Regions from separate parts of the Homo sapiens genome. Here region 2 is linked to region 1. Evidence: fine-mapped expression QTL. Tissue or cell type: sun-exposed skin. Region 1 holds a variant in brackets; the other region holds the start of a gene. All regions are shown on one strand. Distances are between the middles of the regions.

Region 1 (2,907 bases):
TTAGTGTGGGTTTCATCTTATAAGGTAGAGTAGGCCCAGAGAAAAGCATAAGGACTCTAGCTATGGCTACTGATCTCAAGTCTTTGAATTAAAATAGAATTGGGAAAGATATCAAAAGCTATTCATTAATTCTACAAATAAATGTGTTCAAATGGATAATTGGTATCACAATGAAATATGTTCAGTTATGCATCATTTCTAGAAAGCTGTTTGACTTGTAATTAGCAAAAAGTTCTCCTTGGCTCACACCTGTAATCCCATCACTTTGGGAGTCCAAGGTGTTCAGATCACCTGAGGTCAGGAGTTCGAGGACCAGCATGGCCAACATAGTGAAACCCCATCTCTACTAAAAATACAAAAATTAGCCAGGTGTGGTGGCGCATGCCTGTAATCCCAGCTACTAGGGAGGCTGAGGCAAGAGAATCACTCGAACCCAGGAGGTGGAGGTTGCAGTGAGCCGAGATCATGCCACTACACTCCAGCCTGAGCAACAGAGTGAGACTCCATCATCTAAAAAAAAAAAAAAAAAGCAAAAAACCAAAAAACCAAAACCTCTCCTCATCAGAGTATTAACATAATTACAACAGATAATATTCATTACTTGCCAGGTATGCTAGGCATTTTATATTGGTAATTTCTTTTAATTTTTTTCCATTTAATATAAGAACATCATAAATTATACAGACAACGCTGCCTCCTGCCACAAACAACTACCAAAGCTTTGAAAGGATTTCTGATACATTAGCTAAAAACTTTATGAAATCAGCATAGATTATGCTTTGCAACATTCAGGACATGTTACTCCTGTTCTTCCTGGTTCCCCTATCCCCAGGAGATAAACTATATGAACAGTGGATTTCTGGAATGTATTTAGCCTTTGCTGTTATAATGAGGATATTTTTAAAAATCATTTTGCATTGGTGAAGTCTTTTTACCTTTCAAAAGAAACTTACATATAATACCTTACAGGTACATGTTATAGTAAAAAACGAAGGATCATGCTGAAAAAAAGTAGAAACCTTTTGTCCCTCTTAAAATCTAACTTAACATAAATTTGATTTGGATGAGCCCGAACTAAGATAATGCAGTTAATCTACTAGCTTTGAAGGCCCATGAGTGTTCTCTCCCAGGGGTGGC[G/A]AAAATGATGTTGTTGAAATTGAGGAGCTGGTGGTCAAAGAGGATGTCAAAGGGGCCATGAACCAGGAAAGCAGGGGTGTGGTGCACCTACTAAAGTTCCAGTGGCTTTCCCAGTGGCTGTGGAAACTCCATTTTACCCATGACAGAAGGGTACCTCTTCCTTTTCATCTTTGATAAACCTGTTTCAGAAGGGAAAACATGCTATCTCCTTCATTGCCATCTTCCCACCAGCCTCATTCTCACTCAGCCAAATCTATAAACACCGCTCACAGGGTAAGGAGAACAATTATAGTTGCTGACTGCATGGGGAACCACACTGGACCCTGCGTCAGTGTGCAATTTTATAGCTTGAACCATGGATAATAAAGGAGCAATTCTGCGGAAAAGAGGTATAATTTACATAAAAAATATGAATTAAAATACAACTATAGTTGATCCTCAGTATCTGTGGGTTCTGTATCTGTGGATTTAACCGACTACAGATTAAAACAATTTGGACCAAAAAAAAAAAAAATGGTTGCATCTGTACTGAACACGTATAAAATTTTTCTTGCCATTATTCCCTAAGCAATACAGCATAACAAGTATTTATACAGCATGTCCTTTGAATTAAGTAAACAAGTAATCTAGAAATGATTTAAAGTATACAGGAGGAGCTAGGAAGTGGGGCAAGATGCTGGAATAGAACCCTGCAGTGATAGGGCCCCCTACCTGCAGGAACATCAAATTGAACAACTATCTACAAAATAAAGCCCTTTCAAAAGAACTAAGAAATCAGGTGAGAGATCACAGCACTTGGTTTTAATAAAATAACAAGGAAAGATGCATTAAAGAGGGTAGGAAGGACGGTATTGCATTGCCTACACCACCCCATTCCCAACCCCAGGCAGTGCAGCACAGAGAGAGAATCTGCGTGCTTAGTGGAGGGAAAGCAAAATATGAGGGATTTTGCATTGGAACTCAGAGCTGTTCTGACACAGAACACAACACCAGGCAGAATTTCTCTGATGCTCAAGAAGGGAGCACTTCAACCAGTCCCGGGGCAGAGGGGAATCTTTTGCAGCAGGAGGAGGAACACAAGTCACAGCCGGCTTCACTACAGGCTGAGTAAAGTGGTCTGGGGTTCCAAATAAATTCAAGTGGCAGTCAGGCCATAATGACTTCCATCTTTGGGCAAACCCTGGTGTTGCATTGGTCTTGGAGGCAGTGGGATTGGGATGTGACCTGGTGCAACACCAGCTGCAGCAGCCACGAGAGTGCTGGTGTCACCTCATCCCAACTCCAGGCAGTGCAGCAAGAAGGGAGACTCCTTCTGCTTGGGGGAACAAGATGTTACTCTTTGTCTCGCGACTGGGTACCAGCCCAGCCACAGTAAAACAAAGCACCTAGCAGAATCTTGAAGCCCCTATTTCTAGGCCACTGCTCCTGGACCACACTTCTATACCCACTCCAGACCAGGAGGGAATCCACTGCCCTGGCAGGGCAGACCCAATTCTTGGCTGGCTTTACTACCTGCTGACAAAAGTGTCCTTGGGCCTTGAATAAACATCAGTGCAGTCAGACAATAGCAGCCATGGGCCTTGAGTGTCCTAGTCCTATGCTGGTTTGGGAGGTCATGGGTATCAGATGCAACTCAGCGCACTGCCAGCTGCAATGGCCAGAGTGCTTGAGTCACCCCTCCCACAACACCAAGTGGCCAACCCCAGAGAGGGACTCCTGCTTGGGGGAAAGAGAGGGAAGAGAGTGAGGGACTTTTCCTGGGTATCCAGG
Region 2 (2,907 bases), 49 kb after region 1:
AATATCAGCCACTAAATAAGCACTGAACCCAGCTTAAGAATTCCTCCTCAGGCTTAAAACTTCATAAGGCTTTGAATTCATAAGCAGTGAGAATGAAGGTTGTCACTGTGGCGTGACATCTATAATTAACAGCTTCTGAAATTAAGCCAGATTCCTAAAAAATACAACATAAAGGGTCTTCAGAAACGCCTCTCCCTATAGTATGCTTGATGTAAATCCCCACGTGTACAAAGGCCATGTGTCTCTTTAAAGTTCAGGGGATGTCGAGGAGGTACCTCCTTCACACCTTCCACTGCTGAAGGATACTGAAGAGCTTGGAGTTGCTGAAGTCACCCAGGCATCTGGGCTAATGGATTGACAGACAAAAGAGGAGCCCATCATTCAATAATTAATTAGTTGCAATCATGGGAAGACAACGTCCCCCAGAGCAGATAGGACAGCCACCTCCTCCAACCTGGTAGTTTCAAAGCACCCAGGCCCTGGCTGCTCTCAAACCTCTTTATCCAATGTTTCCCCTCAGGGTCTAGCTGAGCAGTTACACTGGCTGACATTCTCTTAAGAAAGCCCAAGAGGAAATGTGCAGAAAAGACAATTTTCAGACCTTGTCTCACAGTCCTGCAGGCCCTGGGACAGGGTATCCAGGGATGTAGGTCTGGTCTAGCTGTATCCCTGTCTCGATAATATAGGAGACAAGGGTCAAGATCCTATCTCTCTGTGAACCATGAATCCTGGGAACGCTGTCAGTTCAATCAAACCCTGCAAAGTTGAATGAGATCATCTCTGGGAGAATTAGTATTTAGCAGAGGCTGCGGCTGGGGGTTGTGGAGAGCTGCTGCTGCCCTTTAGAAGCCCTTCCATTCCCCATCCCCTTCTCAGAAGAGAACCCACCACCTCCTCTCACCCAGGGGTACTCTTACCCTGATGCCCAGAAAAAGGACGACGCCCCCCCACCACAATTTTCACTCCTATCTCCAATTTCCTAAACAAAACCATCACAGCCAGGTACAGTGTCCACACACTCGAATGGAGCACCACCCCAGGCAGCCCCAGGGCAGGGGTTTCTCTCCCATCACCCTGGCCAGGCCCTGGTTCCAGCTGGTAGGCAGAGTGAAAAGGGGGTGTGTGCACGGGAGACTGGAGGGGAACAGGGACCCAAGTCCTCCGGAGGTGAGGAGAGGCTGGGTCCCCGCACCTGGGGTCACTAGCTGGGAGATAAAAACCAAGGCAGGTGGGGGTTCCTTCCAGGAAAGAGCCACACGGTGTCTCTCCCCTTCTCACCATTTCTCATTGATCAACCTTCTGTCTTCCCGTTCTCTCCCTTCCATCCCTCCCCTCCCTCTTTGTTTGCCTTCTCCTCGCCTCCGCGTTTGAGCACCCAGCCCTCCCCACGAGCGCGACTCGGACGCCGCAGTCAGCAGCTCGGGGACCCCGGCCCCGCGCCCGCCACCCGGCCCCCTGCCCTGACCGGCCCTCCCGGCTCCTGGTCTCACCCAGAAGAGCAGGTTGAAGCCAAGCAGCAGGTACTTGATGCACCGCAGGCCCCCGCGGAAGCGCCCCATGCTGCGGCCCGGCGGCGGGATCCCCAGTCCCCAGGCCCGCGCTACGAGCGCGGGGAGCGGCAGGCTCCGGCGGGGAGGGGGCGGAGCGGGGAGGACCGGGGCGGGGCCTCCGGGGGGCGGGGCGGGGCCCGGCGGGGAGGGGCGCGTGGACCCCAAGCGGCGTGGCTGGCGACGGGTGGGGGCGCCAGCGGGTGGAGATCGAGCAGCCCGAGGGAGCACGTTCGCTCTTCTCCCGGACCCAGGGACCACCTTCCTTCCCTCCAGTGGGCGCACCGCCGCCGGCTATCGGAGCACCTGCAGGGCGGGAGCGCCCACCGGGGACTGGGGACCCATTTAATCAGCGCCCTGTGCGGAGACCGGTTTGAGGCCCGGGCGATGCTTGAGGGATAAGCACTTGGTCTCGTGGCTATGGAAATCTAGGAAGGTGACCTCGGGTAGAAGAGCTAAGTGGGGTCGGAGGTTGCCCCGAAGCTGGCAGGACCAGTCGCGGGGCACCTGACTGAGTGTCCAGGGCTGCGGCTCCGCGGCGCGGAGCAAGCACACAAGCAGCTTCTAGGGGACCCTCCCTCCGGCCCCTCCCCCCTCCTCGGGGGACTCTTACCTTAATAGGCAAGAACTGAGAGAGGGTGCGGGAGGCGGCGCCCTGAGTCCTGTGGGCTGCCCTCAACCCAGCCGGCCAGTGGAGGGAGTCTGACTTCTCATGTCCTGCCGGGTTCCACTGATCGGAGGGCTTGGAAGGATCCCAAATTTTCGGGATCTTAATTATGATGTGGAGATGGGAGAAAGGGGAAGGGGGCGGTTTTTGTTTTGCTTTGTTTTTATTAAGTTAGGCTGTTGGCAGGAAAATCAGACTCCCACTTCCATTGACTAAGTGTCTACAATATGTGGTGTCAGACAGTATGGGGGAGACAAGAAAGCAAAATTCGGAGAGCTTATGCATAAATTCAGCAAAACTTTGAGTGCCTATTATAGGCCAGACATAGTAGCAAGCCCCAGGGACTCAACAATGAGGAGACAGCCAGGCCCAGAACCACAGTCTCTGGTGTTGGAGACAGATCTGTAAGCAAATAGGGTGAGGAGAGAAGGGCTGGGTGCTAGACAGGTGTGCCTGGCCTGACTGCCTTAACCAGAAAAGGCATTGCTAAGGAGAGGGGCCTGATCTGGTCTAGAAGACGGAGCCCAGGCGGAAAAGATCAGTCCAGGAAGACAGCATGCGCAAAAGCACAGAGCTGGAGAGAACAAGGCCTCCAAGGGAGTTCTGAGAACCGCAGTTAGCCCGAGTGAAGCCTGGTGGGGGCAGAGTGAGTCAGGAAGGCAGGAGCCAAATCACAGCTTTCAGTCGGCTGAC

Direction of the effects. Positions count from the first base shown, and alleles are read on the strand shown. Sizes are in standard deviations (SD) of each study's normalised expression.
For the expression in sun-exposed skin of the gene that starts at base 1,630 in region 2, allele A in region 1 goes with a lower level than allele G (small effect, 0.22 SD a copy in GTEx).

Evidence for each region. PIP is the estimated chance that this variant, and not a neighbour inherited with it, causes the effect.
Region 2: TSPAN2 starts here. The variant in region 1 is the best candidate, but not a certain one, in a credible set for the expression of TSPAN2 in sun-exposed skin (GTEx, PIP 0.64).

The regions. Positions count from the first base shown.
Region 1 is chr1:115,038,865-115,041,771 of GRCh38, forward strand. No RefSeq gene overlaps it. Among named protein-coding and RNA genes, the nearest start is that of TSHB, 10 kb to the left of the region's middle. The variant G/A (reference allele first, on the strand shown) is at 1,138.
Region 2 is chr1:115,087,874-115,090,780 of GRCh38, forward strand. It overlaps TSPAN2 (tetraspanin 2), which reads right to left and starts at 1,630. Exons shown (of 8, transcript NM_005725.6): 1 at 1,491-1,630. The coding sequence starts at 1,559.